7 linked regions of the Homo sapiens genome follow. The protein of the gene in region 1 purifies or fractionates together with the protein of each later gene. This does not show direct contact. Each region holds a gene or a part of one and is shown in the gene's direction. Other genes may lie near its edges. The genes, in order: STK26, TNIK, ASNS, ARPC4-TTLL3, PPP2CB, TWF2 and TTC4.

Evidence for each region.
Region 2: the proteins of STK26 (region 1) and TNIK purify together in Homo sapiens (co-immunoprecipitation; one study listed by IntAct). This does not show direct contact.
Region 3: the proteins of STK26 (region 1) and ASNS fractionate together in Homo sapiens (co-fractionation; one large-scale study listed by BioGRID). This does not show direct contact.
Region 4: the proteins of STK26 (region 1) and ARPC4-TTLL3 purify together in Homo sapiens (affinity purification with mass spectrometry, with the first as the bait; one large-scale study listed by BioGRID). This does not show direct contact.
Region 5: the proteins of STK26 (region 1) and PPP2CB purify together in Homo sapiens (affinity purification with mass spectrometry; 2 studies listed by BioGRID and IntAct, with this or other methods). This does not show direct contact.
Region 6: the proteins of STK26 (region 1) and TWF2 fractionate together in Homo sapiens (co-fractionation; one large-scale study listed by BioGRID). This does not show direct contact.
Region 7: the proteins of STK26 (region 1) and TTC4 fractionate together in Homo sapiens (co-fractionation; one large-scale study listed by BioGRID). This does not show direct contact.

The regions. Positions count from the first base shown.
Region 1 is NC_000023.11:132,056,598-132,061,301, forward strand, and holds part of STK26 (serine/threonine-protein kinase 26), read left to right. Parts: intron 1-4,704. UniProt on the Homo sapiens protein: Serine/threonine-protein kinase that acts as a mediator of cell growth. Modulates apoptosis. In association with STK24 negatively regulates Golgi reorientation in polarized cell migration upon RHO activation.
Region 2 is NC_000003.12:171,078,754-171,083,457, reverse strand, and holds part of TNIK (TRAF2 and NCK-interacting protein kinase), read left to right. Parts: intron 1-1,063; coding exon 1,064-1,207; intron 1,208-3,805; coding exon 3,806-3,940; intron 3,941-4,704. UniProt on the Homo sapiens protein: Serine/threonine kinase that acts as an essential activator of the Wnt signaling pathway. Recruited to promoters of Wnt target genes and required to activate their expression. May act by phosphorylating TCF4/TCF7L2.
Region 3 is NC_000007.14:97,854,997-97,859,175, reverse strand, and holds part of ASNS (asparagine synthetase [glutamine-hydrolyzing]), read left to right. Parts: intron 1-220; coding exon 221-322; intron 323-770; coding exon 771-898; intron 899-2,359; coding exon 2,360-2,486; intron 2,487-3,716; coding exon 3,717-3,823; intron 3,824-4,179.
Region 4 is NC_000003.12:9,798,496-9,803,199, forward strand, and holds part of ARPC4-TTLL3 (ARPC4-TTLL3 fusion protein), read left to right. Parts: intron 1-1,689; coding exon 1,690-1,801; intron 1,802-3,165; coding exon 3,166-3,261; intron 3,262-4,704. Other genes in the region: ARPC4 (actin-related protein 2/3 complex subunit 4), read left to right, coding at 1,690-1,801, 3,166-3,261.
Region 5 is NC_000008.11:30,788,149-30,792,852, reverse strand, and holds part of PPP2CB (serine/threonine-protein phosphatase 2A catalytic subunit beta isoform), read left to right. Parts: intron 1-1,537; coding exon 1,538-1,656; intron 1,657-4,704.
Region 6 is NC_000003.12:52,228,589-52,233,292, reverse strand, and holds the end of TWF2 (twinfilin-2), read left to right. Parts: intron 1-1,170; coding exon 1,171-1,349; intron 1,350-1,753; coding exon 1,754-1,849; intron 1,850-2,061; coding exon 2,062-2,166; intron 2,167-2,297; coding exon 2,298-2,423; intron 2,424-3,222; coding exon 3,223-3,373; intron 3,374-3,510; coding exon 3,511-3,632; intron 3,633-4,091; coding exon 4,092-4,259; 3' UTR 4,260-4,681; downstream 4,682-4,704. UniProt on the Homo sapiens protein: Actin-binding protein involved in motile and morphological processes. Inhibits actin polymerization, likely by sequestering G-actin. By capping the barbed ends of filaments, it also regulates motility.
Region 7 is NC_000001.11:54,736,361-54,739,860, forward strand, and holds part of TTC4 (tetratricopeptide repeat protein 4), read left to right. Parts: intron 1-1,221; coding exon 1,222-1,304; intron 1,305-3,500.

The DNA.
Region 1 (4,704 bases):
GCCCACTTGAGGTGGCACTAGTGTCTAATGAGTGATGCCCATGGAGTGGCCACAGAACTAAGGCTTCAAGCATAGGCATATCTGGAGGGACATGCTCTGGGGCCCAAGCCAATAGTAATACCAACGTCCTAGGTACAAATACCCCCTACTGCTGCACAGAGCTACAGTGGCTCTGAGGGTGGCGTAGGGCCTAGCTATTTGTAACATCTGAGCTGATGTCTGGAGCATAGGCACGCTCAGAGGGACCTTGTCTCCAGAGCCTGGGATGTGAGCTAGCTCACTATGGCAGTGATTAGCTCAAGTGTCTGAGCTGTGGGTGGGTCCAGTGCAACCACTCAGCTGGTCTGGAGTCCAGAACACAGGCTAGCTTTCAGTGGTGACTGTGTGGATGTCTGGAGCATAGGCACACTCAGAGAAACCTTGGCTCCGGGGCCCTGGGGTGTGAGCTAGCTCACTGTGGCAGTGGCTCCAATGTCTGAGGTATGGTTGAGCTCAGTGAAGACGCAGAATCTGGGTCTGGAGTGTGGGCACTAGTGGAGTGGCCATGACTCAGAGGTCTGGAGCTGCATCAGTTTTCAGAGTGGTGGCTTCTTTCTCCATGTGGCTCAACAATGTCTTCTTCTTGAGATGAGAGAGTTTTGTAGTCATGTATTCCTCTTGGGGTTCCCTGGCAGAAATGGCTGTTGACTACCTCAGTAGCAAGAGATGCCAGTGTCCTCTGCAGAGCAGGCCACTGGGGACCATGATGGCTTCTACTGTGTAGTGATACCAATAGCCTCCACCTTTCATCTTTGTTCCTAGACATTTCCTGGCCTCTCAGGTATGCTGATCTCCTCAGTGATCCTTCCTGTGGAGTTATTCTTTCTTTTTTGCTCCACTGTGTTGCTGCAGATTGTTAAATAGGCCCTTGAATCCTTCCAGAGTTACTTGGGTTTGTGGATAGCTGTCTATATTTGGGGGCTTTTTATGTATATGTGGAGGGAGGGGATGATTAAAACTGGTATCTCCTCTGCCGTCTTGGTGACTTTGTCATCGCTTTCCATCTATCTGTATCTATATTGGTTAATACTGATATAGAAATTTATCACAAATTTCACTGCCTGTTTACAAAACCCGACTTATTCTAATATTGGATGTATGTGGTATGAATGCATAGTAGAATGAATCATTAAGCAGCCAAACAGCCACTATATATTACACACTGTATTAGGTGCTGAAGATATAAAAGTGAACAAACTCACTACTGCTGTCAAGGCACTCACAGTCCAGTTTTGCACTGAAATGATGCCAATTTTATGGTTAAAGTATGTACAAGGTATAGATGATGCACAAATTAGTAAGTAGTCACTTCTGTCCTTTTCAGGAGTGGCATGAATAAAAGGCCTCCAAAAGGAGGTGATAATGCTAGTAATTTCTATCCAATTTCAGCATTTACATCTAAGTGTTAGCTATTACTGTATTTTACTACATACATAATTATTTGCTCCTTTGTGTGATAATTTTGCTGTCATATTTGTTCCTAAAAAGCTAATTCAGCCCATCATATTCTTTTTTAGAGATCTCATGAGTGATTACGCAGTCTCAGTAGTTTTAGGTTCTCCTCCTAATTCCCATACAATTCCTTGGTGGTACATGTGTGTGTGTGCGTGTGTGTGTATGTGTGTGTGTGTGTGTGTGTGTCTGTGTGTGTATCATTTGCTCATTCTGGTTTACTCTTTCTGGACTGAATCCCGGTATTTCCAGACTCACTCTAGGGCAAAACTGAATCCTTGCTACTTTTAGGCACCTGTGACAAAAACACTATTTTTGGTTGCTGACCTAAAATATTAAATACGCCCTATTTAAAATGGCTATTCCATAATATATTGAAAATTGGTACTGATATGGTTTGACAATTTTATTGGTTGCTTATTTATTCATATTCAATACTCCCATGGAAAATGAGTGACAGCTCTATCTTCTTTTCCTAAGATTTCATATAGAGTGTTTTTTAAGTTGCACAGTAGTATACATGTACTAGTCACCCAGTATTTACTTAATCTTTAAATAATTAAAAACTAGTTTTTTGTTTGTCCCAAATTTTGATTGTAAAGTGTACTCAGACCAGCCAGTGCTACAAAACCATCGTCCAAGATAGCTTCTTAAGGGATTAAATCAAATTATTTTTATCTCCTTCACCCATCATTAACTAAACTCTATGATATAAAACACTACTTTGAAGAACATGTTGCTTCATGATAAAATTGTAGAAATGTGCAGCTGGCTTATGTTGATTATTTGTGTTCTGAATCTATTTAAAGTAAATAAATCTGTGTGTATATACATATGTCTTGAGACATATGTATATACACACAGAGAAAGAAATATTCTATAATCTTACAACGTTTTCATACCATGTATTTAAATCACTTTCTTAAATTGACCAACTCATTTATTTTCCATTTATATTACAACATAGTATGACTGTGTGGGTTTGTATTTTTTTCTAAACTAAAATCACGTCAAATATAACAGGATTCTGTTTCATGTAGTCAACATAAGTCAAGGCCACATCCTCTTTGTGCCATCAGGGAACTGTGTTATCAGTCAACTTACATACTTATTGTGGCCCATTGTTCCATTTCAGGTGACATGGAGGATTTTGTGAGTCAAGTTAATTGAGCAAACTGGGAAATGGGTTGTTCTTACACAGGATGTCATCCATAACTAAGACCTCACTGTAAGCTGGAGGAAAAGTTTATTACATTTGAGAGAAAATTATATGTTCTTTGAAACTGTATGCAGTTGTAGTGATTTCCTTGAGACATGCAAAAAATGTACTAGGTATTCATTTTGACTAAGCTCACTGTATAACTTCATTTTTGAAAACAAGAGTTAAAAACCAGACAAACACATCAGTATGACCACAGTGTTTTCCTTTAATTTTAGTTCACTGGGCAGATTTTCTTGACAAAGTTAGTCTTTATGAAGAGTGCTAAAATAAGCAAACCCTTCCCTTCTGATCTCATAATATTGGAATAATCTTTTATAATCTTTAAATATTTTTCTAGTTCAGTGTAAATCTTAAAATGACACTCAGGCATTGAATAGAATTTGAATCATGCCTTTATTTGCTGCTGAAAATTGCCTTTAGATTTCTGTGTATGTTAAGGAAATATTGCCTCCCACCCACCATCACCAGTATTTATGAAAAAAAAAAGAATTGAATGAAGTAAAATATTTCAGAATCATCTGTACGGCTTTGTGGCCTTCTCCTTATTTTTCACTGAAACTGTATGTGCTTACAGCCAGTTTATGTATGCTCAATGCCTCTGGAATATTCTTTTATTGTTAACATTTGTTTTGGAGTTCTCTTATAAAACTTGAAGAAAATGGAGGCTAGAAAGTTTGTTCCTTCTTAAAATGTTCTTTTCTCAAAATAGGAATAGCTTTAAACTTAATATAATACACCTCTAAGAAGCCCCATGTTAGATTCAATTCAACAGACGCTTATTTATTAATGCCTACTATGTGTATTCCTCTTCTTTTGCATATTGTGGTTAATCTCATCTACTTTCGTCTGACAACTTCTAAACTGATGTCTCTGGTTTCATCCTCTCTGCTCAGCCCCAGATATGTGTTTATAACTTGCTTCATATTAATAGCCTGCTTATCTGTGAGTACATCAAGTGCAATAACCCTCAAACTAGGGAGGTAGCATTTGAACTAAGTCTTGAGAATGATTTTGATAGGGGTTGGAAGGTGCAAGTGGGGTAGGGACACAGCATTCCAAGCTGGAGGAAAATGACTCAGAAGTGGTAAATTTTCTAGCCATATTCTTGGCAAGATGATCTCTACTGTCACTTCCAGTTTTATAAAGTCTTATGTGCTGTATGTTTTTTTTAATCAGGCAAAATATACTTAACACTAAATTTGCCATTTTAAGTGTACAGCTCTCTGGCATTGGCTACATTCACATTGATTTTGTGTTTTTTTTGTTTGTTTGTTTTTTGGGTGGTTTTTTTTTTGTTTTGTTTTTTTGTTTTGCTTTTTTTTTGTGACAGGGTCTCACTCTGTCTCCCGAGCTGGAGTACAGTGGCGCAGTCTTGGCCCACTGCAGCCTCCACCTCCCAGGTTCAATTGATCCTCCCACCTCAGCCTCCCGAGTAGCTGGGACTACAGGCATATGCCACCACACCTGGCTACTTTTTTGCACTTTTTGTAGAGATGAGGACTCCCTATGTTGCCTAGACTGCTCTCAGACTCCTGGACTCAAGCGATCCTCCCACCTCGGCCTCCCAAAATACCAGGATTACAGGCGTGTTGTGCAGCCCTCACCACCACTGATTTCCAGAACAAATAAGGATTCCTTATTTTCAGATCTAGAAATTGAGTAGTTGTAATTTTAATGCTTAATGGTATATACTACTTTGTAAAGTCACATTTCAAGCTTTCTATGAACACGTTTTACTGACAGACAGTTGGCAAGTTTCTGTTTTGAATTAGTACAAACAAAAAGGCACACATTGTTTTTAACTTGGAAAACAGGTGCTTTCATTCATGCAGAACTGCAAAATAGGCAGGCATGTTTTATAAGATCTTTTTCTTTTAAATGTCAGGTGAATGGGAAGCTCTCTGAATTCATATGATAGAGTATAGTACTTGTTAGAAACAAACTTGTGGCAGAAGAAACAATTTTTAACCTATCCACCATTGTAAGAACCA
Region 2 (4,704 bases), on another chromosome or scaffold:
GTCCCCTGTGTACCCACTGAAAATACTAGGCTTGGATTGGGGAACCATAATTTTAAAAGGCTGAAAGCATTTGAGATGTTAGCGGGGAAGAGTGTGAAGCCTAGGAACCATTTCATGATAGAGGCTCTGTCCTCTGGAGAAGAGACAGAAGAGAACAAGATAGCCACATTTAATACTGAAAGGATTAATATATGGACAAAAAAGCAGACATTTGTGTTGATCAGAAGATAGAAGTACAAGACGTAAGAGAAGTTAGAGAGTTACATGTTCATGAATAAAGTACACTGCACAATGAGCCTCTCAATGTGTGTGTGTGTTGAGGGGTGGATGATACATTTCCCTAGCCATAAATTTTTAGGATTACAACTACCCAGACAAAGCCACTTATGTGCCTGTGCTTCTGTAATAGGGATTACTGCATGGGTGTTGGGCTGCACTAGATTTAGAGACCTGAGAAGTCCCTTAAAGTGAGTATGTCTGTGACTCTCCAGCTATTAACACTTCTCTTGAATGGGTTTATCATTTCCCTAAAAAAGAGCAAAAACTTGAGGGTATGGGGCATAAGATAGTTACATTTTGATTCAAGAAGGAGGAAGGGCCTTTCTTCCATTGGAGTATGGAAATGGAAATTCCACTGTATATTGAAGGTGGGTAGGCTAGAGACCACTGCATAGGGGTGGGGGTGAATCTTGGGGAAGAAGAGAAGTGATTTATAGGGAGAGCCAAGAAAGAAGTGGTTTTTCCAGGCAGGGAATAAAGGCAAATTATGCTAGCTTCACATCTGTGCCTAAGGCTCCTATTGACAAGGACTCTCTGCATTAGGTAGTAAATAACTAGATGTATGAATGCTGCTAACTTTATAAAAGAAAACTGTAATTTCATTACCAGAAGTACAATGATTTAATTATTATGTCAGAGCTTCTACATTCATTAGTTTATATTTACCTACTTGCCCATTAGTGTATATTTACAAGTCACAGTTTCTTAAATTTTATAGGGACTCTCGATGCAGAAGATTAAAGTTCATGAAAAGTCAGTCTTAGGGTGCTTCTTAAATTTACAGGTGTAAACCTTCTGGTGGGGACTGAAAATGGCCTGATGCTTTTGGACCGAAGTGGGCAAGGCAAAGTCTATAATCTGATCAACCGGAGGCGATTTCAGCAGATGGATGTGCTAGAGGGACTGAATGTCCTTGTGACAATTTCAGGTATGTTACTAAGATGATGAGTCCCCCAGGTCCATACAGCGGGAAAGGGATCCACCTCATTTCTGCAGAAACAGTTAGTTCTGCCCTTCCCAGCTAACAAACAACACAATAAAGTATAGCAGTATAGCCAGAGTGAGATTGCCCACATTTTGTAACACTGGGAATTCTGACCTCCAAAAAGAAGTCTCTCACCTCTGCATTAAATCTGAATTAGGCAGAGACATACCACAAAGGCTATATATTTATAGCTCTTTACCTCTGTCAGGACTCAGCAAGGATCTTCGGATGTTTTTAAGGTTTCTGCACTCCAGTTATTACCACATACAGACAGAATATCAAAATGCAGGCTTCCTAGAGGGACATTTAGTAAGCAGAAATTTCTTGGTCTCTTCCCTCAAAAATTCTCTTGCTTATAGCCCACTGATGTTTTGGCAGGTGCAGCTGGCACACTGGGTGATCAAGTCTACAAAAAGATTTGAGTGTGGGAATCATTACTGCTATGCTCTGTAGCTTTCTGATTCCCAAAAAGAGCCTTATATAGGAAAAAAAAAAAAAGATGGAGACTAAAGTGAAGGCCTTGTAACAAGTTAAAAATGCAACCTAAAAGAGGGTAGTTTTGTTGAAAGTTTTTTTTCTTTTTGGTATTTGAAGGAGTTTAACGAGTAACACCCGTCACTTCCCCTCTCATTCCATCTAGTATGGAACCAACTTGCTACTGCACTTTATAATCACCTAGGGAGATGTGAAAATCTAGGCTGCACCCCCAGACCAGAGTCAGAATCTCTGGGGGTGGGGTTTAGGCATCAGGAGCGTTCATAGTTTCTGATGTGTTTCCATTGTACAGCCAAGTTTGAGAACATGGATTTATGCTCAGCCATTGTTTCACGAAGAGACAACACAGGGATGCTGGTTTGAACTTTCCTCAAAGTTCAGCTGTACTTCCATTTTGACAAAATGCTTTTGCTTGTCACTAAACTTCCTCTTTCTTTTACCTTTCCACTGAATGCTCAGTTTCATCTCTTTTTATTCTCCCCAAATAAGGTTAACCAGGTAAATTCCTTTTGTATTGCCATTTGAGTTTAATCCCATGTAGTCTTTTGTTCTGGTTAATTGCTGTCCTGATTGCTATACTACCAAATCAAAATGAAAACTGCATATCTGCCAAAAGTGGGAATGCAACCAGAAAATTCACATTCAGACTTCATTATGTTGTTAGTGGCACATCTTCATTCTTAACAGTGTAAGAGTTTCCTTTTCTCATGAGGCACAGATAGGGAAAGGAGAAAATGAAAATAGGAGCAAAAGATTCTTGAACTAACCTTGGATTCATATTGGCATAGAAAGGAGGAAACACTGGCTCTCGTGTCCATCCTAGCTACTGTGATCAATGTGGATTCTAGGCCTTTGGTTACAAAATTGAATACTGACCACACAATGATTCCCTTAGTTTAGGTGATGAATGTGCTCTCCTGTCAAATGCATGTGTAATGCTTTACTAAGTTCTCTTCTGCTGGTATATATTCATCTATAAAATATAAAACATTTTTTTTGGGAGAGGCCGAGGCGGGCGGATCATTTGAGGTCAGGAATTCCAGACCAGCCTGGCCAACATGGTGAAACCCCATCTCTACTAAAAATATAAAAATTAGCTGAGCATGCTGGGAGCGGCACCTGTAATCCTAGCTACTTGGGAGGCTGAGGCAGGAGAATCGCTTGAACCCAGGAAGCAGAGGTTGCAGTGAGCCGAGATCATGCCACTGGACTCCGGCCTTGGCGACAAAAGTGAAACTCATGTCTCAAAAAAAAATAAATAAATAAATAAATAAAACATTTTTAAAGCCTAAGATAAAGAAAAATAAGTATCCAAAAAATAAAACCCATAGAGCTAAATTTATCATTAGTTAGGAAGAGTCATCCCAATGGACATTTTATCTGGTGCAAATCATCAAATGGAGTATATCAAGTTTTGCTACTTGTGTACTCTTCAATATTGTCTAAATATTTTATCATCCTATGAATTCTTTATTCCAAGATCACTTTACCAAACGGAAATTTAAGTTTTCAAGTTTGCATCCTTTTTTTCCTATTTTTGTTCAGTATTCCTTTCAGTGACTTCAGCACCATAAACCTGCCCAGTATAATTTTCTGAACCCATATTATCCTCTTGTTTGTTATTAGGTTATACGGTGAAGGAAAGGCAGGTGCCAAAATGCCCAGTTGCCAACACTTCTTCATGTGATTGATCTAGAATGTTCTGGAACTCTGATCACTCTGTTGAAGAGTTAGCTCTTACTAAGTTCAGCAGACACTGCTTTGCATTGGGAAGAGAGAGTAAGAGCACATGCTCAAATAAGAAACCACCTGAAGATAAAAGACATTGTAATTCTGTGATGTGTCTAAAACACGTAGAGCTATTTTAACCATAAGTTCTGGCAGAAACACCATTTTAATGACAAAGTGCTGGGGACACTGGTTATTATGCCTTCATACACACACACACACACGTAAATAAAATAAATTAGAAATAAATGGAGGTGGGGAAGGAAAAAGTGAGAGCTGTCACAGCAATTTGAAATTAAACCTCTATTATTTCAACAGGAAAGAAGAATAAGCTACGAGTTTACTATCTTTCATGGTTAAGAAACAGAATACTACATAATGACCCAGAAGTAGAAAAGAAACAAGGCTGGATCACTGTTGGGGACTTGGAAGGCTGTATACATTATAAAGTTGGTAAGTCTCAAGACATGGAATTATAAGTTTGGTCTGTTTACTCAATCAGACTTACTTAGTTAGGTTTCACCTAGTTTTTTCTATCAGATTGATGATGCATGTGTGACCAGCTTCAGATGTTGCTGGAACCTTCAGCATTATTTATATTTTTTAAAAGCCAGATTGATGAAATTGAAAGAGTGCATTCAGAATAAAGTCCTAGGCTCCAGTTTGAACATTTATATCTACTTTCTTCCAAAGACTCATTAAAATGACAAGAAAAGAATAAAAATGCCATAAGCCTATGAGGACAGTGGGACCAAGAGAAGAGAAGAAATGTCGGTAAAATCGAAAGAGTAGCTGAGTGACTGGAAAAAGACCTAGAATACCAGGAAATTCTGAATTCTGAATCTGCAGTGAGGAAAATGATCAAAATCAATCCAACAGAACCTGGAAAGGCCCAGGAACTAAGGCCCCAGGGGAATCTCAGGTGGAAGTGGAGGTGTAAGGTGGGACTGAAAATAGAATTGTTAGAAAATTCATGAGCAGCAAGTCTTCCAGAACCCAGTCTCCACCTCTGAGTAATTAGGCCACTACCTTCCTCTGCTGCAACAGAAGATGAAAGGTTTGCACAGCCAATATGATGCTGGGAATACTTGTGAAAACACACACACATACACATCCCTCTAACCCCTACTTAGCTCCCAAATAGCCATGCCTATACTCCCTGGGAAGAGAATGTAAGAAATGTCTTTGGAGAAACTAAATGGCCAGAAAGAAAAGAT
Region 3 (4,179 bases), on another chromosome or scaffold:
CAAGGGAAAAAAATTTTAAGTTGTATTCTCCCATCATTTGAATGATTTTAGTTTCAAGACCTACTTCCTATTTTGTTTGGAGGGAACACATTAAGATTTGGCACACTCCACCATTGAGTAAATACCATCATGATAGATGTTGATGATTGTGTATTTCATTTCAATAACTAATCCAGCCCAAGATTTTCTGGAGCTGTTTGATTTACTGCTGTGTTTATAGGTTTTGAGATAGAAACTGTGAAGAACAACCTCAGGATCCTTTTTAATAATGCTGTAAAGAAACGTTTGATGACAGACAGAAGGATTGGCTGCCTTTTATCAGGTGAAGTCAATTAAAAAAACCTAATTATATTTCATGTGTGTTTAATTGAAATGATTTGTAGCCATCCCTTTGGTTTTTACTATAAAATATTTACTGTATGATTTACTCTTTCCTTCATTATAGGATGGAAATGATTTTTTATAAGCTGTATTTAATAGTCATAGTCATACTCCAACTTGAGTTACACTATAGCTATGTTATTGGTGTTAAGAGTGAGTCAGTGAATGTTCTTTAGAATTCTGTGTAGTGATTTTTAACCAATTCAAATACTACTATTATCACAGTTTATATATTTTTCTCTTGTTGAAGTTGATTTCAGTTTATAAAACTTGGCGGATTTTAAATAGTAAAACTATGATCTTGGTGTTTATCAGGAATATACATCTTCTGTCCCTGTCTTATGCAAGGCACATAACTAGGACACTTCCACTTCCTCTTTTGCATGTAGGGGGCTTGGACTCCAGCTTGGTTGCTGCCACTCTGTTGAAGCAGCTGAAAGAAGCCCAAGTACAGTATCCTCTCCAGACATTTGCAATTGGCATGGAAGACAGCCCCGATTTACTGGCTGCTAGAAAGGTAAGGTGCTGTCTCTGTCCCTTGTGTAGTGTAGTTAGAGTAGACTTGTTATTAGAATGAAAATGGAGTCAATAATGGGTGATTCTACTGCTGCTGTATTGACTGGGTCAATTGTTTTAAATTGATTGTATTAAAATAGAATGAAATGGCTGTTGGATATGCACTGTGTTGTACACTGTCCTCTGTGTACTTTTATCTGTTATGACCCATGCAATTCTCACAAAGACCCTATGATGATAAGTATGCTCTTTTGAAAGTAAAGGTGTCTGGGCATGGTGGCCTACACCTGTAATCCCAGCACTTTACGAGGCTGAGGGAGGTAGATTACCTGAGGTCAGGAGTTTGAAACCAGCCTGAGCAACATAATGAAACTCCATCTCTACAAAAAAATACAAAAACTAGCCAGGCTTGGTGACGCATGCCTGTAGTCTTAGCCTTATGGGAGCCTGGGTGACAGAGTGAGACCTTGTCTCAAAAAAAAAAGAAAGTAAAGGCATAAGTCAGGTGCAGTGGCACACACCTATAGTCCCAGATACTTGGGAGGCTGTGGGGGGAGGTCTGAGCTCAGGAGTTCAAGTCCAGGCTGGGCAACGTAGCAAGACCCCATCTTGAAAAATTAAAAAAACGGGTTTTTTGTTCGTTTTTTTTTTTTTTTTTTTTTAAACGTAAAGGCATAGTATCATGGCTAAGACTGCAGACTTTGGAACCTGACTTGTGGTTTGAAATCCTGGCTCTACTCATTTATGTAACCAAAATAATAGTGTCTGCTATGGGGAAATTTTAAGGTGAAATGATATAATTCATGTAAAGTAAGTAGGGTAGAACTTAGCATGTAGTAAGTACTTAATGAGTGTTAGCTGTTATTATTATTTTTGAAAGTACTGTATTTAGAATACTGTGGGCAGAGGGCAGCTTGTCTGTATTCAGTGAGCGGGAGACCTAGTTCCCACTATGGAGGACTTTCGTAGCATGGATGAGAAAAAGCTAGAGAGCAGTCTCAGTGCAAGGTAATCAATGCCGAGAGAATCCAAAATAGCCAAGGAAAGCAGAATGAGGGGAAGGGCCATTCTATATAAGAATAACATCCTGGATATAAAATTAGGCATTTAAGAAGGACCAAAAAAGACCAAGCTTAGCGTGGGACCATGTTGGACTAGAGAGAGATGAGGTGGGTTAGGTAAAATAGGTAGAGAGGGAGGTGCCAACTGGGAGAATGGTTGAAGCCTTGGCACCAGAGGAGCTGAGGGGAGACTTACTTCCTGGTGGTGGAGTTGAAGCAGGCGAGGGAACAGTGCTGGATGGGGCTTGTATGTGGTGGGCTGTAAAGTCATTTTTCTTTTTTTCCCTTGTTTAGTTTTCACCATTGTTAATTCATAAAGCTTTGTGAACTCCCATCATGTTTGATTTTCAAGGGAAGTTATTTTCTTTAACAAGTAAATGGGTATTTCTTTATATAATAAGGTGGCAGATCATATTGGAAGTGAACATTATGAAGTCCTTTTTAACTCTGAGGAAGGCATTCAGGCTCTGGATGAAGTCATATTTTCCTTGGAAACTTATGACATTACAACAGTTCGTGCTTCAGTAGGTAAGGTATTATGATATTCTTAAATAAAAAGCTTTTTTTAATACTGAAAAAAATGTAAGGTTTAAAAAAATTATTTCAAGCCATAGTTTTAAAATGTTATTTAAGGATGAATGCAAATTAAATCCCTATGTTACTGATTATTTAAGACCACTTAAGAATTCTCTGAATCTCTTTTGGAGTGAAGGGAATAGTAAATACGTAGTTCAACCTCCACATTGTTGGTGTCACTGTTGGTGTTTCCCCAGGGAGCAGATACATATTTTCTGCCCTCTACCTCCCATTTCTCTTATAGTTTCTTGGGCTACAGTCTATATACAGTGAGGAAATAGGTCTTTTTGGTAATGCATTTTTGATAAGAAATAGTCATTTTAGATATATTCCATCACACAACTTACCAGTCACTAGCTATCATTGCTCTGCAAACAATACTAATTTTATCTTGTAGATAATGTATCTACTGAGATTGGAAGTATACCCCAAATCAGACTGATCCAGTGTTATTGAGCCTTTATATGCTACTGCCTCCCTTGAGAGACTTGCCTTGGAAGGCAAAAATATCTTAGGTATTACAATGGTTTATGGCCCTCCAAAACATCACAGTAAATAAGCAGATAGACAGGATAGCTCTGGTATTGGAATTTCATGGGGCTGGGGTGAGGTTAGGAAAATAAGTGTCTAAAAAGGCTCTCTAGCTGAGGTGATAATAAAAACAAGGTTGAGAAGAAACACTGGTTTAGAGAGATGTGGTGCAGGACCAAGGAGGCAAGTTTAATAACTTATATAGTCTCCCCAGCTTTATGTGAAATCTGGTAAATGGGGAGTGGCAGGGGGAAAATACCCATCAAAATTAACACTAAACCACCAAAACGGTTATTCTTATTTTTGTGTCATAATACCACTATGAAAGGCATGATTTTTAGGTATTTGAGTCATTGTTCAGCTTAGCAAAGTTTTGAGGTGGACATTCTTGGTCTAAAAACATTAGAATTTTAAAACCTGTTTAGAAAATGACAAAATGGTTCCGGGTTATTTTATTTTACAGTAGTACTTTTGGATTAAGTACATATAAATGGCTTATAAATACAAGGTCATTATTGTGGAAACTACTTTATATTAATATGAAGTCCAGTATAGTAGTAAAGCTTTCAATTATTTCCAAAAATCAAATCAAAGGCATTTTTGGTGGAAGGTTATGTTGACATTAAAGTTAATTTCTCTCTCTCATTTAAGGTATGTATTTAATTTCCAAGTATATTCGGAAGAACACAGATAGCGTGGTGATCTTCTCTGGAGAAGGATCAGATGAACTTACGCAGGGTTACATATATTTTCACAAGGTAACCACTCTGAAGTGGAGGGATATTCATGCTATATTAAGAAAAGTATGAATTGTTTGACTATTTTCTATCATCTTTCAGTATGACAGTGATATTTTTGAGTATCTTGTGAGGTTACAAAAGGGAATCTGATAGTGTTTGCTTTCTATCTCTTGGGGAAGAAAGAAATTTTAATGTGTCAGATAATTTTTATTCTTTAAAACTAGTTACAGCTGGGTATGAGGGCTCATGCTCATACCCCCAGCTGCTGAGGAGGCTGAGGTGGGAGGATCACCTGAACCCAGGAGATTGAGGCTGCAGTGAGCTGTGATTGCACCACTGCACTCCTGCCTGGTTGACAGAGTAAGACCCCGTCT
Region 4 (4,704 bases), on another chromosome or scaffold:
GGATCTCTTGAGCCTGGGAAGCAGAGGTTGCAATGAGCCAACATTGCGACAGTGCACTCCAGCCTGGGTGAGACCCTGTCTCAAAAAATAAGTAAATAGGCCGGGCACAGTGGCTCACGCCTGTAATCCCAGCACTTTGGGAGGCCGAGGCAGACAGATTATGAGGTCAAGAGATCGAGAGCATCCTGGCCAACATGGTGAAACCTTGTCTCTACTAAAAATACAAAAATAAGCTGGGCATGGTGGTATGCACCTGTAGTCCCAGCTACTCGGGAGGCTGAGGCAGGAGAATTGCTTGAACCTGGGAGGCGGAGGTTGCAGTGAGCCAAGATCGTGCCACCGCACTCCAGCCTGGCAGCAGAGCAAGACTTCGTCTCAAAAATAAAATAAAATAAAATAAAATAAAATAAAATTCATTCTGGTACATACATAACTGAGATAATCTGGGTTACAACATTAAATGATACGATTTAATTTTTAATTTTAAAAATAACTGATAAAGATGTTAGGATATGCCCTGTTATACTGTGTAACGTACACGATTTCCAGTGGGCCTTTGAAAATGGTTAGCAGTTTAGAGACACCACACCACAATTAATTACTATTAGAGATCTCTAGGTATTCAGAGGCATTACTTTGTAACCTGAACTCATAGGGGTCTCAGAGGCAAATGAATCATTTCTGGATTGATAATTAAAGGAAGCCAAACTGTGTTCAATTTTAGCCTTTCCTTACCTCTAAGACAGGTGTTCTCTCTGTATTCCTAAATGGTATATTGGTTTGCCTGTACAGGTTGAGTATCTCTTATCCAAAATGCTTGGGACCAAAAGTATTTCAGATTGTGGAATATTTGCAGATACTTAACCAGTTGAGCATCCCTAATTCCAAATCCAAAATGCTCCAATGAGGATCTCCTTTGAGCATCTTGTCAGCACTCGGAAACTTTCAGGTTTTTTTTTTTTTTTGAGATGGAGTTTGATTCTGTCACCCAGGCTGGAGTACAGTGGTATGATCTTGGCTCACTGCAACTGCCACCTCCTGAGTTCGAGCAATTCTCGTGCTTCAGCCTCCTGAGTATCTGGGATTATAGGAGTGCGCCACCATGCCCAGCTAATTTTTATATTTTTAGTACAAATGGGATATCACCATGTTGGCCAGGCTGGTCTCGAACTCCTGACCTCAGGTGATCCACCAGCCTCAGCCTCTCAAAGTGCTGGGATTACAGGCATGAGCCACTGTGCCCAGCCAGTTTCAGATTTTGGATTTCAGATTTGCAGATTGGGGATGTTCAACTTGTAGTTACTAAAATAGCTATCTTTTGTAAAGCTCCTACTATGTGCCAGGCACGCTATTAGACATTTGACCCTTTTTGATCTCTCTCAGTCCTCGCCAGTGAATTAGGAATCAGAGTCATTTTACAGATGAGAAAATTGAGATTCCAACAGGGTAACTTGCCCAAGGAAAGTAACAGAGGAGGCTGGATTTCAAAACCTTTTCGCCCTGACTTCAGAGCCTGTGCTCTTTCTGCTGAAGAACACACTCACTGGCCCCCATCTTGGAGCACTCCTGCTTGTGAGTCTTCTATTCCTTGGACTCTATGGTCTCATAGTGATTCCAGGACCTGCGTGGGGTCACTCTGACTATTCTATCCCTCTGTAGTACAAGTACTCTGTCACATTATGTTTTCAGGAGTAGCAAAGAGCTCCTGTTACAACCTGTGACCATCAGCAGGAATGAGAAGGAAAAGGTTCTGATTGAGGGCTCCATCAACTCTGTCCGGGTCAGCATTGCTGTGAAACAGGTAAGTTCACCATGGAGGAGGCCCAACGTAAGGCCTCTTTCAGTCCTTTCAGCCTCTTTCAGTCCGGGGTCCCCATCTGAGAGATCAGTGTGCCAGATTCCAGATTCAGAGTGCAGGAAACCTAGCCTCTGCTTCCTTTTTTTTTGACACGGATTCTCACTCTTGTCGCCCAGGCTGGAGTGCAGCAGCATGATCTCAGCTCACTGCAACCTCTGCCTCCCGGGTTCAAGCAGTTCTTCTGTCTCAGTCTCCCAAGTAGCTGGGATTACAGGCATCCGCCACCACGCCCAGTTAATTTTTGTATTTTTAGTAGAGACAGAGTTTCACCATGTTTGCCAGGATGGTCTCCATCTCCTGACCGCAGGTGATGGGCCCGCCTCAACCTCCCAAAGTACTGGGATTACAGTCATGAGCCACCATGCCTGGCCAGTAGAGGGCAACTCTAAACTTTCAACAGGATGAAAACGAAGCACTGTTATTAAATGCAGACTACACACTGTTTTCTACAGAAACTTATAAACCTGGGGCCTGCTTTCCTTGCTAAAATGGGAGGTTAACAAGTGTTGAGAGGTGTTAAGGGCATGCTAGCAACCAGCAGCAATAATCTTCCTTTAGAAATGTTGAGAGTTCAGGGCCAGGCACAGTGGCTCATGCCTGTAATCCCAGCACTTTGGGAGACCAAGGCGGGTGGATCACTTGATGTCAGGAGTTCAAGACCAGCCTGGCCAACATGGTAAAACCCTGTCTCTACTAAAAATACAGAAATTAGCCAGGCGTGGTGGCACGCGCCTGTAATCCCAGCTACTTGGGAGGCTGAGGCAGGAGAATCGCTTGAACCCGGGAGGCAGAGCTTACAGTGAGTCAAAATCGTACCACTGCACTCCAGCCTGGGTGACAGAGCGAGATTCCATCTCAGAAAAAAAAAAAAAAAAAAAAAAAAAGAAATGTTGAGCATTCAGAAGGGAGAAACTTCAGGGATTGTTGGATGTTCAGTGTTATTAAAGCAGAGACCACCTAAGGTTATCTCTGATAGCCCAGGTGATGCTGCAAAACACCCTGGGAAATGTGACACTAGTGAAATGAGAATGGAAAGGGCAGCTTGGAGTACAGCTGTAGACTCTGAAAGAAGCAATAGAAGCCTGTCAGAATTACCTCTCTGGAATGGGTCGTCATTAAGAGATGCCCCAAGGTAGACCCTTGTTTCAGTTGACAGCCAGGTCCCCCACTTCAGTGATCCTTCCGAGTACCAAACCTCACTGTCTCCTGGGAGCCTTGAAAAAACTGGAGTCAGAAGACCAGGCTACAAGGTGTTTTTGGCCTTGGGTGTCAGCTTTAGAGAAACATTTCTCTCTTGCACTCCCCAGGCTGATGAGATCGAGAAGATTTTGTGCCACAAGTTCATGCGCTTCATGATGATGCGAGCAGAGAACTTCTTTATCCTTCGAAGGAAGCCTGTGGAGGTGAGACCCTGTGACCCATGAGTTTGCGATACCCAGGACCCTGTTACAGAATGGCCTGGGATTGTTTCTAGAACCAGCTACTCCAGCTGTTTGGCACCCACTGCCTGAATTGAGAGTTGGCCTTCATCTTGGAGTGGGAGCAAAGAGGATTAGAAGCTTAGGAAAAGTTGGGTCTACCTCAGCCATAGAAAAGGCAAAAAAGAGCCGGGCGTGGTGGCTCATGCCTCTAATCCCAACACTTTGGGAGGCCGAGGTGGGTGGATCATGAGGTCAGGAGTTCAAGACCAGCCTGGCCAACATGGTGAAACCCCATCTCTATTAAAAATACAAAAATTAGCTGGGCATGGTGGTGGGCGCCTGTAATCCTAGCTACTCAGGAGGCTGAGGCAGAGAACTGGTTGAACCTGGGAGGCGGAGGTTGTAGTGAGCCAAGATCGTGCCACTGTACTGCAGCCTGGGCGACAGAGCAAGACTCCGTCTCAAAAAAAAAAAAAAAAAAAAAAAAGGCAAAAAAGATAAGACACATTGCTTATTCCCGGAGCCTATAGTCTAGCATCAGAAAGAGCACAGTGAATTAGAAATCCTTTCTAAGATCTGCCAAATGAATCATAGTCTCTCTCTCTTTTTTTTTTTCTTTGAGACGGAGTCTCGCTCTGTCGCCCAGGCTGGAGTGCAGTGGCACAATCTTGGCTCACTGCAAGCTCCGCCTCCCGGGTTCACGCCATTCTCCTGCCTCAGCCTCCTGAGTAGCTGGGACTACAGGCGCCCACCACCACACCTGGCTAATTTTTTGTATTTTTAGTAGAGACGGGGTTTCACCATGTTAGCCAGGATGGTCTCGATCTCCTGACCTCGTGATCTGCCTGCCTCGGCCTCCCAAAGTGCTGGGATTACAGGCTTGAGCCACCGCGCCTGGCCTTTTTTTTTCTTTTTTTGAGATGGAGTTTTGCTTTTGTTGCCCAGGCTGGAGTGCAGTGGCGCAGTCTCACTGACTGCAACCTTCCACCTCCCAGGTCAAGTGATTCTCCTGCCTCAGCCTCCCGAGTAGCTGGGATTATAGGCACGCATGTGCTACCATGCCCAGCTAATTTTGTATTTTTAGTAGTTTCATTGTGTTGGCTAGGCGGTCTCAAACTCCTGACCTCAGGTGATCCGCCTGCCTCGGCCTCCCAAAGTGAATCATAGTCTGCAATCTGGGCTCACTGCAAGCTCCGCCTCCTGGGTTCACGCCATTCTTCTGCCTCAGCCTCCCGAGTAGCTGGGACTACAGGTGCCCGCCACCATTCCCGGCTAATTTTTTGTATTTTTAGTAGAGACGGGGTTTCACTGTGTTAGCCAGGATGGTCTTGATCTCCTGACCTTGTGATCCGCCCACCTCGGCCTCCCAAAGTGTTGGGATTACAGGCGTGAGCCACCGCGCCCGGCCCACTGAATCAGTCTCTT
Region 5 (4,704 bases), on another chromosome or scaffold:
GAAAGAGACTAAAATTTTAGCCTGAAAGAGACTCTTAGATTGGATAAATAATCAAAATTTAGCTGTTATTTGGGATGTACCTAAAACATAAATGATTGGCTGGACAAAGTGGCTCATGCCTATAATCCCAGCACTTTGGGAGGCCGAGGTGGGAGGATCTCTTGAGTCTTGGAGTTTCAGACCAGCCTGGGCAACATAGTGAGACCTCATCTCTATATAAAAAAAAAAAAAAAGTCAAAAAGTTAGCTGGGCATGGTGGCATATGTCTATTGTCCCAGCTACTCAGGAGGCTGAGGTGAGAGGGTCACTTGAGGCCAGGAGGTTGAGGCTGCAGTGAGCTATGATCGTACCGCTGCACTCCAGCCTGGGCAAAAGGGTGAGACCTTGTCTCAAAAAAACGAGGAAAAAGAAAAAGACACCACAAACTAGAGGTAAGAGTTGGAAAATGGTATATTGGTATATCAAGTAATTAATCAAAATATCAAAAATATAGCTAATGAGCTGGCGTGGTGGCTCGTGCCTCTATTCCCAGCACTTTGGGAGGCTGAGGCAAGCGGATTGCTGGAGCTCAGGAGTTCGAGACCAGCCTGGGCAACATGGTGAGATCCTGTCTCTACTAAAATACAAAAAATTAACCTGGTGTGGTGGCACGCACCTGTAGTCCCAACTACTCGGGGCTGAGGCAGGAGAATTGCTTGAACCCAGGAGTTGGAGGTTGCAGTGAGTCTAGATCGCACCACTGCACTCCAGCCTGGGCAACACAGGATGTGTGTGTGTGTGTATATACACACATACATACACTAATGTATGTATATATATGTATACATATATACACACATGTATGTGTGTATACATATATGCACACGTATATATACACATATACACACGTATACATATATGCGCACACATACATGTATACATACATATATACGTGTATGTATATACACATGTATATACACATGTATACATATATGCACACACATATATACATATATACACGTATATATACATATGTATATACACATACATTAATTAGCATGTATGTATACACACTATATATAATACTATAGCTAATAATATGAATGAGATAGGCTCTAATAAAAGGTATTATTAGAAATAAAGAGATTATTGATGAAAACTGGCCCAGTTCTCTAGGAAGAAAGTATTCTAAATTTGTATTTACCTAGTAATAGCTTCAAAATATATAAAGAAAAAATTGGCATAATTCATGAGGGAAAATTGAGAAATTAATTATGATTGTGGGAGAAATTCAGTACACATCCTTGCCAAGATTTCAAGCATAGATACGGCAAAACAACAATTAGCGAGCTGCATTTAACAGACTCCTAGGCCCACGAATTGCACAGTATTCTTTACAGGTACACAAACTATTAAAGATGGAGACCTTATATAGTAATATAGACGACTACATTTCCACAGAGAGTACCTGTAGTTTTTGAGTTTAGTTTTTTTTAAATGTGTCTGTGTCAAAATCATAATATTATAATGAAATAATGAATTTGTTTTTATCCTGCAGGGATACAATTGGTGTCATGATCGGAATGTGGTTACCATTTTCAGTGCACCCAATTACTGTTATCGTTGTGGGAACCAGGCTGCTATCATGGAATTAGATGACACTTTAAAATATTCCTTGTGAGTAACTGTAAATTTTAATTGTATATACTTTCAGAAGGAAAATTTTAAATGTTAAAAATAGAAGATTTCTGTTTCTGAAATTGGATGAGGAGTATAGCAAAGCCCCTCTCCAGCAAAAATAACCATTAGCTGGAGAACATTATTTTTAAAAAATAATTTTTCAAAGCTTTTGGAAATTGTCCTAAGGGCATACAGCAGGTGGAGAAACAGTTAATTCAAGAAAACCTACTAAATCTCAGTAATAATAGCCGTAGTCTGTGGCATTTGAGCTATGACTTGCCCCCTCCAACTCCTCCCAGATCCCTCTCACAGAAACGACTACAGGCGCTCTACGCTGGGTTGGTATAGTCAGGAGGCTAAGGGATTCCCCCTCTTCATCAGCTCCCAGGGCTGGGGCTGTGGGTTCACTCCCAGAGATCAGATGCCAGCATATCTCACCTCTCCTAGTCTGGAGTTACAAAAGCTCTACTCCTGGTAGACACAGTCAAGCAGGCTGAGGCCCCCTTCCCTGCCCCAGCTCCTGGGGCAGAAGCTCTGCTCCAGGCATGCATGGCAGATGAGAATGCTGGGTTTCCCAATGCTGTTACCCCAGCACCTGCTTATAAACCAGGTGGTATCACTGAGCCTGCACTGGCACAGAAGTTCTGCTCAGGAGGAAAGGCAGGTCACAGAAGTTCCTCAGCTCTGCCTCAGAGGACTTATCTTACTTAGGTGATGGAGAATTCCAAATCTGAGTGCTTTGTGGAAAGCAGTAGATGTCATGGTGGAGACCAATTAAGAGGGCTGTAATAGCTCCCATGATACTAGGAGCAACATACAAAAGAGCAGAGCAACATGTTGTTCAACAAATAGCACCAGGGAAAAAGCCAAGAAGAGCCCTTCTGGGATCACAGTCAGCCCTGGGGGACAAGAAGGCTGTGCACATGCACTAGCCATACCCACTCAGGAGCAGTCAAGAGTAGGATGTGGGGTATTCATATAATATTTTCAAGCCACACATAGATTGTACTGAGTTGAATAATGTCCCCCCAAAAAAATTCATGTCCACCCAGAACCTCAAAATGTGATGTTATTTGGAAATAGGATCTTTACAGATATAATTATTAAAGATGAGATTGTACTGGATTAGGGTGGGCCTAAATCCAATTCGAATGGGATTTTAGTAAGAGGAAAAGAAACACACACAGGGGAGAATGCTGTGTGAAGCCAGAGATTCAAGTGATGCATCTACCAGCTAAGGATTGCCAGAGCCATCAGAAGCTAGGGAGAGGCTAGGAAGGATTTTTCCTAGAGCCTTCAGAGAGAGCGTGGTCCTCCCAGCATCTTGCTTTCAGACTTGTAGCCTCCAGAACTGTGAGAGGATAAATCCCCGTTGTATAAGCTATACAGTTCGGTAATTTGTTACGGCAGCCCCAGGAAATGGATAAGTAGATTGATCAACAAATGGTGTAACCATCACTAGTATGTGAGGCTTAAACACAACCTCTCATCATTGACTGAACGACATTCAGTTACTCTGATCCAGGAGCACCTCCTAGGTAGTCAGGCTTTAAAATAAAATCACACTCATCCCTGACAGTCTGGCAGAATATGTGCATGCCCAAGGTTATACCCTCTCTGGACTGAGTGCAGTATGAAGATCCAACTATTAGTCCCTGGCTGAATGGGAAGCCAAAATATAAACTCCTTCAGCTTTGATAGCAATCTGCAAGTCACATAACATTTCCGGTGGCCATTAGGGTGAGCTTTAAGATCTAACTGGCCAAGGGGGCTTAAGTACAATCTTTGATCAGTAAGTGGCTTATGCCTACCCAGAGACAGCCCCTCAGTAGCCAGGCTGTGAAAGATTAAAAGAAGTAAAAACGGTCAGGCACGGTGGCTCATGCCTGTAATCCCAGCACTTTGGGAAGCCGAGGTGGGCGGATCACCTGAGGTCGGGAGTTCAAGACCAGCCTGACCAACATGGAGAAACCCAGTCTCTATTAAAAATACAAAATTAGTTGGGTGTGGTGGCGCATGCCTGTAATCCCAGCTACTCAGGAGGCTGAGGCAGGAGAATCGCTTGAACCTGGGAGGCGGCGGCGATCACGCCATTGCAGTCCAGCCTGGGCAACAAAAGTGAAACTCAAAAAAAAAAAAAAAAAGTAAAAACATCCGAGCAGGGCCACAGGGGCTGCACACTATGGGGGAAGTAGACTTTACAGTTAGTTCAGCTAAGTCACTAAACAAAAATAATAAACCACCAAAAAGACAAGATCAGTCCCCAAGGACATGAATTCCAGAGCTACTGCAATATGTTATCTATAATGTCCAATTTTTCAACCACAGATTATAAGACATGGAAAGAACAAGGAAGTGTGACCTCTACACAGGAAAAAACTAAGCAACAGAAACTGTTTCTCTTGGATAGAACAACTAGGCAGGAGATGAAGGCAGGAGAAGACTTGAGCAACACTGTAAACTGACTGTATACCTCATGTCTGTAAAACAACACCCAACAACAGCAGAATACTTTCCTCTCAAGTAAACATGAAACATAGTCATATGCTAGACTGTAAAACATGCCTCAGGCAATTTAAGAAGATTAGATTCTTAAAAGGATATTCTCCAAACACAAGGAAATGAAATTAGAAATCATTAACATGGCTGGATGCTGTGGCTCACACAAGTAATCCCAACACTTTGGGAAGCCAAAGTAGGAGGATCACTTGAGGCCAGCCTGGGCAACATAGGGAGACCCCGTCTCTACAAAAAAATTTAAAAATTAGCCAGGTATGGTGCCAAGCACCTGTAGTCTCAGCTGTATGGGAGGCTGAGATGGAGGATCACTTGAGCCCAGTTGATCAAGGCTGCAATGAGCTATGATCACAGCACTACACTACAGCCTAGGCAACAGAGCAAAGACCCTGTCTCAGAAAGAAAAAAACAAAAAAAAAAACAAGAAGATTTGAAATCAGTAACCTATCTTTATACTTGAGGACCTAGAAAAAGCAGAGTAAACTAAACCTGATGTAAGCTTATGAAACGAGGTTTAGAGTAGAAATA
Region 6 (4,704 bases), on another chromosome or scaffold:
CCTGGTCTGTTGGGGCGTCCAGGCATCGGGGCCCCTGCCCAGATCAGGAGAGTCTGGTGGACTGACACCAGGACCCCCAGCCAGGCTGACTGCCCCTTTGCCCCAGTTATTGCTCCAGGCTAGACCTGTGTATACCCAGGCTGGTGTCTGGTGCCCAGATGAGGTCCCAGTCTACAAGTGCAGCTGGATGCCCCATTTCAGCCAAGGAGCTAGCAGGCCTGTGGGGCCTAGGCACTTAGATGGTGGCTGCTTTGGATCTGCGACATTTTCTTTCTTTTTTTGAGACGGAGTTTCGCTCTTGTTGCCCAGGCTGGAGTGCAATGGCGCCATCTCCTGCTCACCACAACCTCCGCCTCCTGGGTTCAAGCGATTCTCCCACCTCAGCCTCCCGAGCAGCTGGGATTACAGGCCACTACACCCAGCTAATTTTGTATTTTTAGTAGAGACGGGGTTTCTCCATGTTGGTCAGGGTGGTCTCGAACTCCCAACCTCAGGCGATCCGCCTGCCTCTGCCTCCCAAAGTGCTGGGATTATAGGCGTGAGCCACCGCGCCCGGCAAGGATCTGTGACATTTTCGAGGGGACTGCAGCTGGCAGGTAGCCGCAGGATGTCTGTTTATCCAGGGTCTGGTAGGAGCCCCTGCTCCTCCTTTCCAGAGGCTTTTACCCCTGTAGGTCCCTGTGGCCTGGGGCTGTGACCTGCCCCTCAGCACATTTGTCCTGAGGGGAGTCTGCTGCGGTTCTTCTGCTGGAGCCCCAGGGGAGGAGGCGAGCAGGAGGCAGTTTCGTGGGGACTGTGGGCTGAGCAGCTGTGCGGTGGGGATGGGGTCCAAGGGAGCACCCAGGGGTGTGGTGTCCGTGAGGGGCTGACGGCTGCGTGTCTTTGTGTGGCTGTTTGTGTTGGTGATCTGCGCACGTGTGTGTGTGTGGGGGGGTGTGTGCACGCGCTGGGGATGTGCAGGGGGGCAGCCCCCAGGTGGCAGCTTTGTGCCTTCCCTTGCTCACTCATTCAGCCACACAGCCTCACACTTCTGGGACCTGGGGGCTCCAGGGAAGGTGAGGGGCAGCCGGCGGCTCTGAGCCAGCTGGGCAGCCACGGCGAGGCTGGAGGTCTGCAGCGGGAGGCGCAGTGGGAGCTGGGAGCGGCTGCTCATCCGGCCTCTGCCCCCAGAGCAGCTCGTGCTGGGTGCCTCGCAGGAGCCAGTAGGCCGCTGGGATCAGGACTATGACAGGGCCGTGCTGCCACTGCTGGACGCCCAGCAGCCCTGCTACCTGCTCTACCGCCTCGACTCACAGAATGCTCAGGGCTTCGAATGGCTCTTCCTCGCCTGGTCGCCTGATAACTCCCCCGTGAGTCCTGGGCCAGTGGGAAGTGAGGAGGGGAGCTGGGGCTGAGCCAGGCAACAAGGCCTTGCCCTGGGGGATCCAAGAGGGGACACAGGCCTGCCCCTGGAGGGTGGGGGAAGAGCTGTCAGGCCGTGCCCTAGGGAGTCTGAGAGAGGGTCAAGTCCCTGTGCCCGCAGCCTGGGTACCTCTTGCTCTCCAGGCATCAGCCTGGCTCCGGAGGCTGTGATCAGGCTGGACGAGGGCTCCCCCTGCTGGTGGGGGCCACCTGCTGCGTCCTGGCCCCGGGCTGGCCCTCTGCCAGGTGTGCCAGCGCAGTGAGCCCACCGAGTTCCTCCAGAGGCACCTGTCTGTTCCGGGAGAGGCAGCCCTGCCCAGAGGCCTCTTACGGTTTGGCCCTTGCCCTTCAGGTGCGGCTGAAGATGCTGTACGCGGCCACGCGGGCCACAGTGAAAAAGGAGTTTGGAGGTGGCCACATCAAGGATGAGCTCTTCGGGACTGTGAAGGTAATCCTAAGCCAGGACTTACCGGGACACAATCCTGGGCCCACAGAGAGGGGTCACTGTGCAGGGTCAGAGAGCAAGCTAGTGCCAGCTTCGGGAGGAAGATGGGGGCGCTGGGGGAGTCCAAGGGCTGCAAGCTGGCGTGCTCCGTGGGCCTCCTCTAGCCAATCCCCAGGTGCCCATTTATGGCTCTGCATTCACCCCCACCCCTGCAGGATGACCTCTCTTTTGCTGGGTACCAGAAACACCTGTCGTCCTGTGCGGCACCTGCCCCGCTGACCTCGGCTGAGAGAGAGCTCCAGCAGATCCGCATTAACGAGGTGGGTGGGGAGCAGAGGCCCCAGCCTTGAGCCCTCAGGGTCATATCGGCCCAGTGGCAGCCTGTGCTGCCTGGGAGCCACACCCTGCTTTGGGCCGGTGAGGGCCTCCCTCACCATTCCCCTACCCACAGGTGAAGACAGAGATCAGTGTGGAAAGCAAGCACCAGACCCTGCAGGGCCTCGCCTTCCCCCTGCAGCCTGAGGCCCAGCGGGCACTCCAGCAGCTCAAGCAGAAAATGGTCAACTACATCCAGATGGTGGGTGCCTGCTCCCTACCCTGGCACATGCTGCCACCACCCCTACTCCTGCCCATGCACATGTGCAGATGTACATGGAGTCCCCACTCCACCAGCCTGCAGTCTGTCCCCTTCAGCTCGTCCATGTGCTTGTGGGAACACATGGTCCACCCCACCCCTCCCTGATCCCTACCTATTCCGCCTGGGGCGCAGACACTGTGTGCACATAGATGTGTTCTGGTCCCTTGTCCCCAGGCCCTGCTCATACACAGGTACACCTGTGAGCACACTGCCCCATTCCGCCCTCCACCCATACCCCTGGGGTCACACTGACCCCTCAGCCCCGAGGCCCTTCCTGTCAGAGATCCCCTCTGTTGTCTCCTTGACCACCCCGTTTCCCTAGGCAGGGTCCTTCTGCCCTGGCTGTTCCGGCTGCCGCTTTCAAGCAAAACGGCTCCTCCCTTCCAAGATGCTTCCGCCAGAGGCCTTGCCTCTGAGGATGGGCTGGCCCAGTGGCAGTATCTCCCTGAGGTTGTGACCCTCCACACCATCCTGTCCCAGGAGTCACTACCGTTGACTACCCTTGGTGGGAGTTCCTTCTCTAGCACAACCTTCAAAGGGGCAGAGTTGGGGCTGGGCCCAGGACTGGCCTCTTCAGAGGGACCCCCATAGAGGGATGGCCATTGCAGGGGAGTCTTGGGAGAGGGAGGTCACATCAGGCTCCTGCCCACCAGCTAATCCTGTTTGAGGGCTTCCTGGGGAGAGGGGCCTGGGCCCACCCCGACCTGGTGCTCTCCCATCTTCCCTTGGCCCTGGGCAGAAGCTGGACCTAGAGCGGGAAACCATTGAGCTGGTGCACACAGAGCCCACGGATGTGGCCCAGCTGCCCTCCCGGGTGCCCCGAGATGCTGCCCGCTACCACTTCTTCCTCTACAAGCACACCCATGAGGGCGACCCCCTTGAGTCTGTAGGTGAGTGGCCATGGCAGGGCTCCCAAGCCTGTGGCTGGGTGGGAGCAGGGCTGGTCTGCAGTGGGGCAGGCCTGCTCTGGGTGCGAAGGTCAGCAGGTTTCTCAGGCCTCCCAGGCTCACCTCCTGCCCCCCAACAGTGTTCATCTACTCCATGCCGGGGTACAAGTGCAGCATCAAGGAGCGAATGCTCTACTCCAGCTGCAAGAGCCGCCTCCTCGACTCCGTGGAGCAGGACTTCCATCTGGAGATCGCCAAGAAAGTAGGCGCCCTCCCCAGGGCCTCACCTCCCCAGGCCCTATCACTCCAATCTCCATGTGGGGCGCTGGGGTCCTGAGATGACGGCAGAGCAGGAATCGTTGCTGTCGTGTTGATCATAGGGCATCTGAGGCCCAAGGAGCAACACGCATGGCCCAAGGCTGCCCAGCTGATCGGTGGCTCAGAAAAGTCCAAGTCCTGGCTACCATGTCATGTCCTTTCCCTGGGCCTGGAGACAGGGAGGAGGTGACCCCAGCGAGCAGAGTCCAAGGCATGCAGGGCAGCAGGCCCTAAGCTCTTGCTTTCCTGGGAGTGGCATTCCAGGTGGGGAATCAAGGGGAGACCTCAGGAGACCCCAGGGCTAGGATGTGAGAGTAAGGGGTGCCCCAGGAGTGGGGGCTACCAGGGGTGGTGTGTGTCAGAGCCCCTCCCATTGGGGTGACCACTGCCTTGCCCCATGCAGATTGAGATTGGCGATGGGGCAGAGCTGACGGCAGAGTTCCTCTACGACGAGGTGCACCCCAAGCAACACGCCTTCAAGCAGGCCTTCGCCAAGCCCAAGGGCCCAGGGGGCAAGCGGGGCCATAAGCGCCTCATCCGCGGCCCGGGTGAAAATGGGGATGACAGCTAGGAGGCTGGAGCAGGGCCGGCCACGTGTGGACTGTGGGGCTGCCCACCTTCCGCTCCCTGCCACCATCCTCCTTCCTGGGCTCCAGGAAAGTGTTTCTGGGAGGTCAGGAGGGCTGGCAGCTGAACGCACTTGCAGCGTCCGAGGGCCACCGGGCTGGCATTTTGTGACCCTTCCCTGTTGCTGTCCCTGCATCTCGTCTGTGTGCCCAGGGTGTCCGGGGACCCTGCCTGGCTGGCTTAAGGGGGCTGGGTCAGGGGCCTGGCATGAACCTGGCCTCCCGGGGAGCTGAGACTAGGGTCCCAGCACAGCCCAGAAACCTTTGGCCACAAGAAGTGGGGTCAGTCAGGGCTGGGGCAGGGGTCACTGCAGTTTGGGATGGTTGAATGCTGTATTTTCTAAAGAATAAAATATTTTTAAATCAAGACTTGTGCTTGGCCCTGAGAGA
Region 7 (3,500 bases), on another chromosome or scaffold:
TTGTTCTTTTTTTGTTTTTGTTTTTTTGAGACAGAGTCTAGCTGTGTTGCCCAGGCTGGAGTGCGGTAGGGAGATCTTGGCTCACTGCCAAGATCAACCTCCTGGGCTCAAACAATCCTCCCACCTCAGTCTCCCAAGTAGCTGGGACCACAGGCGTTTGCCACCGTGCCCAACTAATTTTTGTATTTTTAGTAGAGATGAGGTTTCACCATGTTGCCCAGGCTGGTCTTGAATTCCTGGACTCAAGTGATCCACCTGCCTCAGCCTCCCAAGTGTTCAGATTACAGGCATAAGCCACCATGCCTGGCCTGACTTTATTATTCTTAATATAGTTATTTGTTTGATCAGTTCCCCTCCTGTCATCACCACTGGCCCCTCTCCTATGTGGAGCCTTCCTCACCCTACTTGGACTCTTGACTCCACATGTTACGCTGCTGCCCCAGCGTGGGCGTCTTTCTCACCCCGCACAGACTCTGACATCCCACACTGCTCAACGACCCTACATGGACATCCTCCTCATCCTGCTTGGGCTCTGACACCCTACAGCAGGCCACCCCCTGCCATGAGTGGTCACCCTCCTCACCCTAGTTGGGCCTGTAAACTCCATATTACTTGTCCCCATGCATGGATACCCTTTTCACCCCACATGGCCTCTGACACCCCACCTTGGACAGCCATCTTACAAGGGAGCACTTCTTCCCCTGCTCAGGCCTGCTGGCCCCCAGCATGGATGCTCTTCTTCACTGGTCCTGCTCTGACACCCCCGGGAGCTTCCTGTGCAGGCGTCTTCCTCACCCTGCTTGGGCTTTGACACCCTGCACAGACATCCTTCTCTCCTTCTTCAGGCTCTTTCCTTCTCTGAGCCACCATAGCTTTCTCCTCCACATACCTGATGGCTTTAGTCTGATTTGTTAGGGAAAGGAGGGCTACATAGGCCTGGCCTTGAGTCTTGATTCTTCTGTTTACCAGCAGGGTAATGTTGGCAAGTTGTTGTTCTTCTCTGAGCCTTGATTCTGTCTTTGGAAGATGGAACTGATAATAGCCTCTTTTACAGTGGCATGGCGGGGGGGTACTAAATGCAAAGCACCCAGCTACACAACCATATAAAGGAGGCATTCAACTACTAACCGTTGCCATCTTTTTAATTTTCCCTGGGCTTAGCCTCAACTAAGGCTGCCGAAGCCTTTATCTCTGACTCTTGCCCTTCTGTTAATCTTGCAGGTCTACTTTGAGGATGAGGACAGGGCAGAACTATACCGGGTGCCTGCCAAGAGCACCTTGCTACAGGTTCTACAGCACCAGAGGTGAGTCATCTCATGGCGCTGAGTAGATTGGGGAAGATGCTCAGTGTATTAGTCCATTTTCACACTGCTGATAAAGACATACCTGAGACTGGTCAGTTTATAAAGAAAAGAGGTTTAGTGGAGAACTCACAGTTCCACGTGGCTGGGGATGCCTCACAATCATGGCAGAAGGCAAGGAGGAGCAAGTCACCTCTTACGTGGATGGCGGAAGGCAAAAAGAGAGAGCTTGTGCAGGAAAACTCCCTTTTTTTTTGAGATGGAGTTTTGCTCTTGTCGCCCAGGCTGGAGTGCAATGGTGTGATCTCGGCTCACTGCAACCTCCACCTCCCAGGTTCAAGCAATTCTCCTGCCTCAGCCTCCTGAGTAGTTGGGATTATAGGCACCTGCCACCACGCCCGGCTAACTTTTGTATTTTTAGTAGAGACGGGGTTTCACCATGTTGGCCAGGCTGGTCTTGAACTCCTGACCTCAGGTAATCCACCTGCCTTGGCCTCCCAAAGTGCTGGGATTACAGGCATGAGCCACCACTCCCGGTCAAAAACTCCCATTTTTCAAAGCATCAGATCTCGTGAGACTTAGTCGCTATCACGAGAACAGCACAGGCAAGACATACCCCCATGATTCAGTCATCTCCCACCGGGTCCCTCCCACAACACATGGGAATCATGGGAGCTACAAGATGAGATTTGGTTGGGGATACAGAGCCAAACCATATCACTCAGGCACCATCCGAGGAGTAGAGCCAGGTTCTCATTCCGCTGCTGACTGATTGCCTCATACTCCCCTCCCTTCTGCCCTGAGCACAGAGCTGTGTGAGACAGCAGCCATGGAGACTGGCCGGGCCCATAAAACTCAGCCATTGGTCAAACAGGCTCCAGTGTGATGATAGCCCACTGCACCACAGCCATAACACTCCAGACCAGGGGAGATAAATAGGACTGGTCTTTGAAGGGAAAAGCTGCCTGGCTTTTTGTACATGAAGGCTGCTAGGATGGCCTTTTTTTTTTTTTTGAGACGACATCTCGCTCTGTCACCCAGGCTGGAGTGCAGTGGTGCGATCTTGGCTCACTGCAACCTCTACCTCACCCCCCAGGTTGAAGTGATTCTCCTGCCTCAGCTTCCTGAGTAGCTGGGATTACAGGCGCCTGCCACCATGCCTGGCTAATTTTTGTATTTTTAGTAGAGACGGGGTTTCACCATGTTGTCCAGGCTGGTCTCAAACTCCTGACCTCAGGTGATCCACTCACCTCGGTCTTCCAAAGTGCTGGGATTACAGGCGAGCCACTGCACCCGGCCAGCCTTCCTTTTCCTAATCGTACCTATACCTATGTCTCCTGATGCTCTTTCTTTTGTTTGCTTTTTCTTATTTTGAATTTTTTTTTTTTTAAATAGAGATGGGGTTTTACCATGTTGGCCAGGCTGGTCTTGAACTCCTGGGCTCAAGCAATCCACCCACCTCAGCCTCCGAAAGTGCTGAGATTACAGATGTGAGCCACCACACCCAGCCCCTAAAATTTTTTTTTAAATTATTTTTATAATAGAGACAGGGTATCTTCTCCAGGCTGGTCTTGAACTGGGTTCAAGCAGTCCTCCTGCCTCACCCTCCCAGGTAGCTGGAATATCAAGTGCATGCCAGTGACCCGGCTCCTGATACTGTCATATGAAGAAAGCATTGGCTCTTGAAGTCAGACCCATCATCATTTACTGGCTGTGTGACTCCAAGCACACGCTGCCTCTCTGGGACTGCCGCCTCATCTCTGGAATGGGAGTAATACATGCCTACACATTTCTCAAGTATTTGAGAGCCAATGACAGGATAGGAGTTGAAGTGCTGTTGTAAACTGCACAGGGCAGTCCTGCTATAGGAGGGCATCTTTGTCATTAGCAGTGGCAGCAAGTTGGATTTGGCAGTTGTCTCAGAGAAGCTGTGAGGTGTTCCTGGACTATAAGGGAAAGCCCTCAGCAGATTTGCAAATTGACTCTTGGACTACTTTTCCTTAAGCTTTGAGCAAAGCAAAGCAGAGAAAAGCAGATGCTTTTGCACTTAAGCTAAAAGAGCCCAATGTATTAGTGTAAAGAGAGTGGTTGGATGTGGTAGGAAATGAGGCTAGAAAGCTAAGTTAGGGCCATACACGAAGGCCTGAATGCCCTGCTAAGGAGCGTAAACTTTATCCTGATTGTGGTGTACACCAGGGT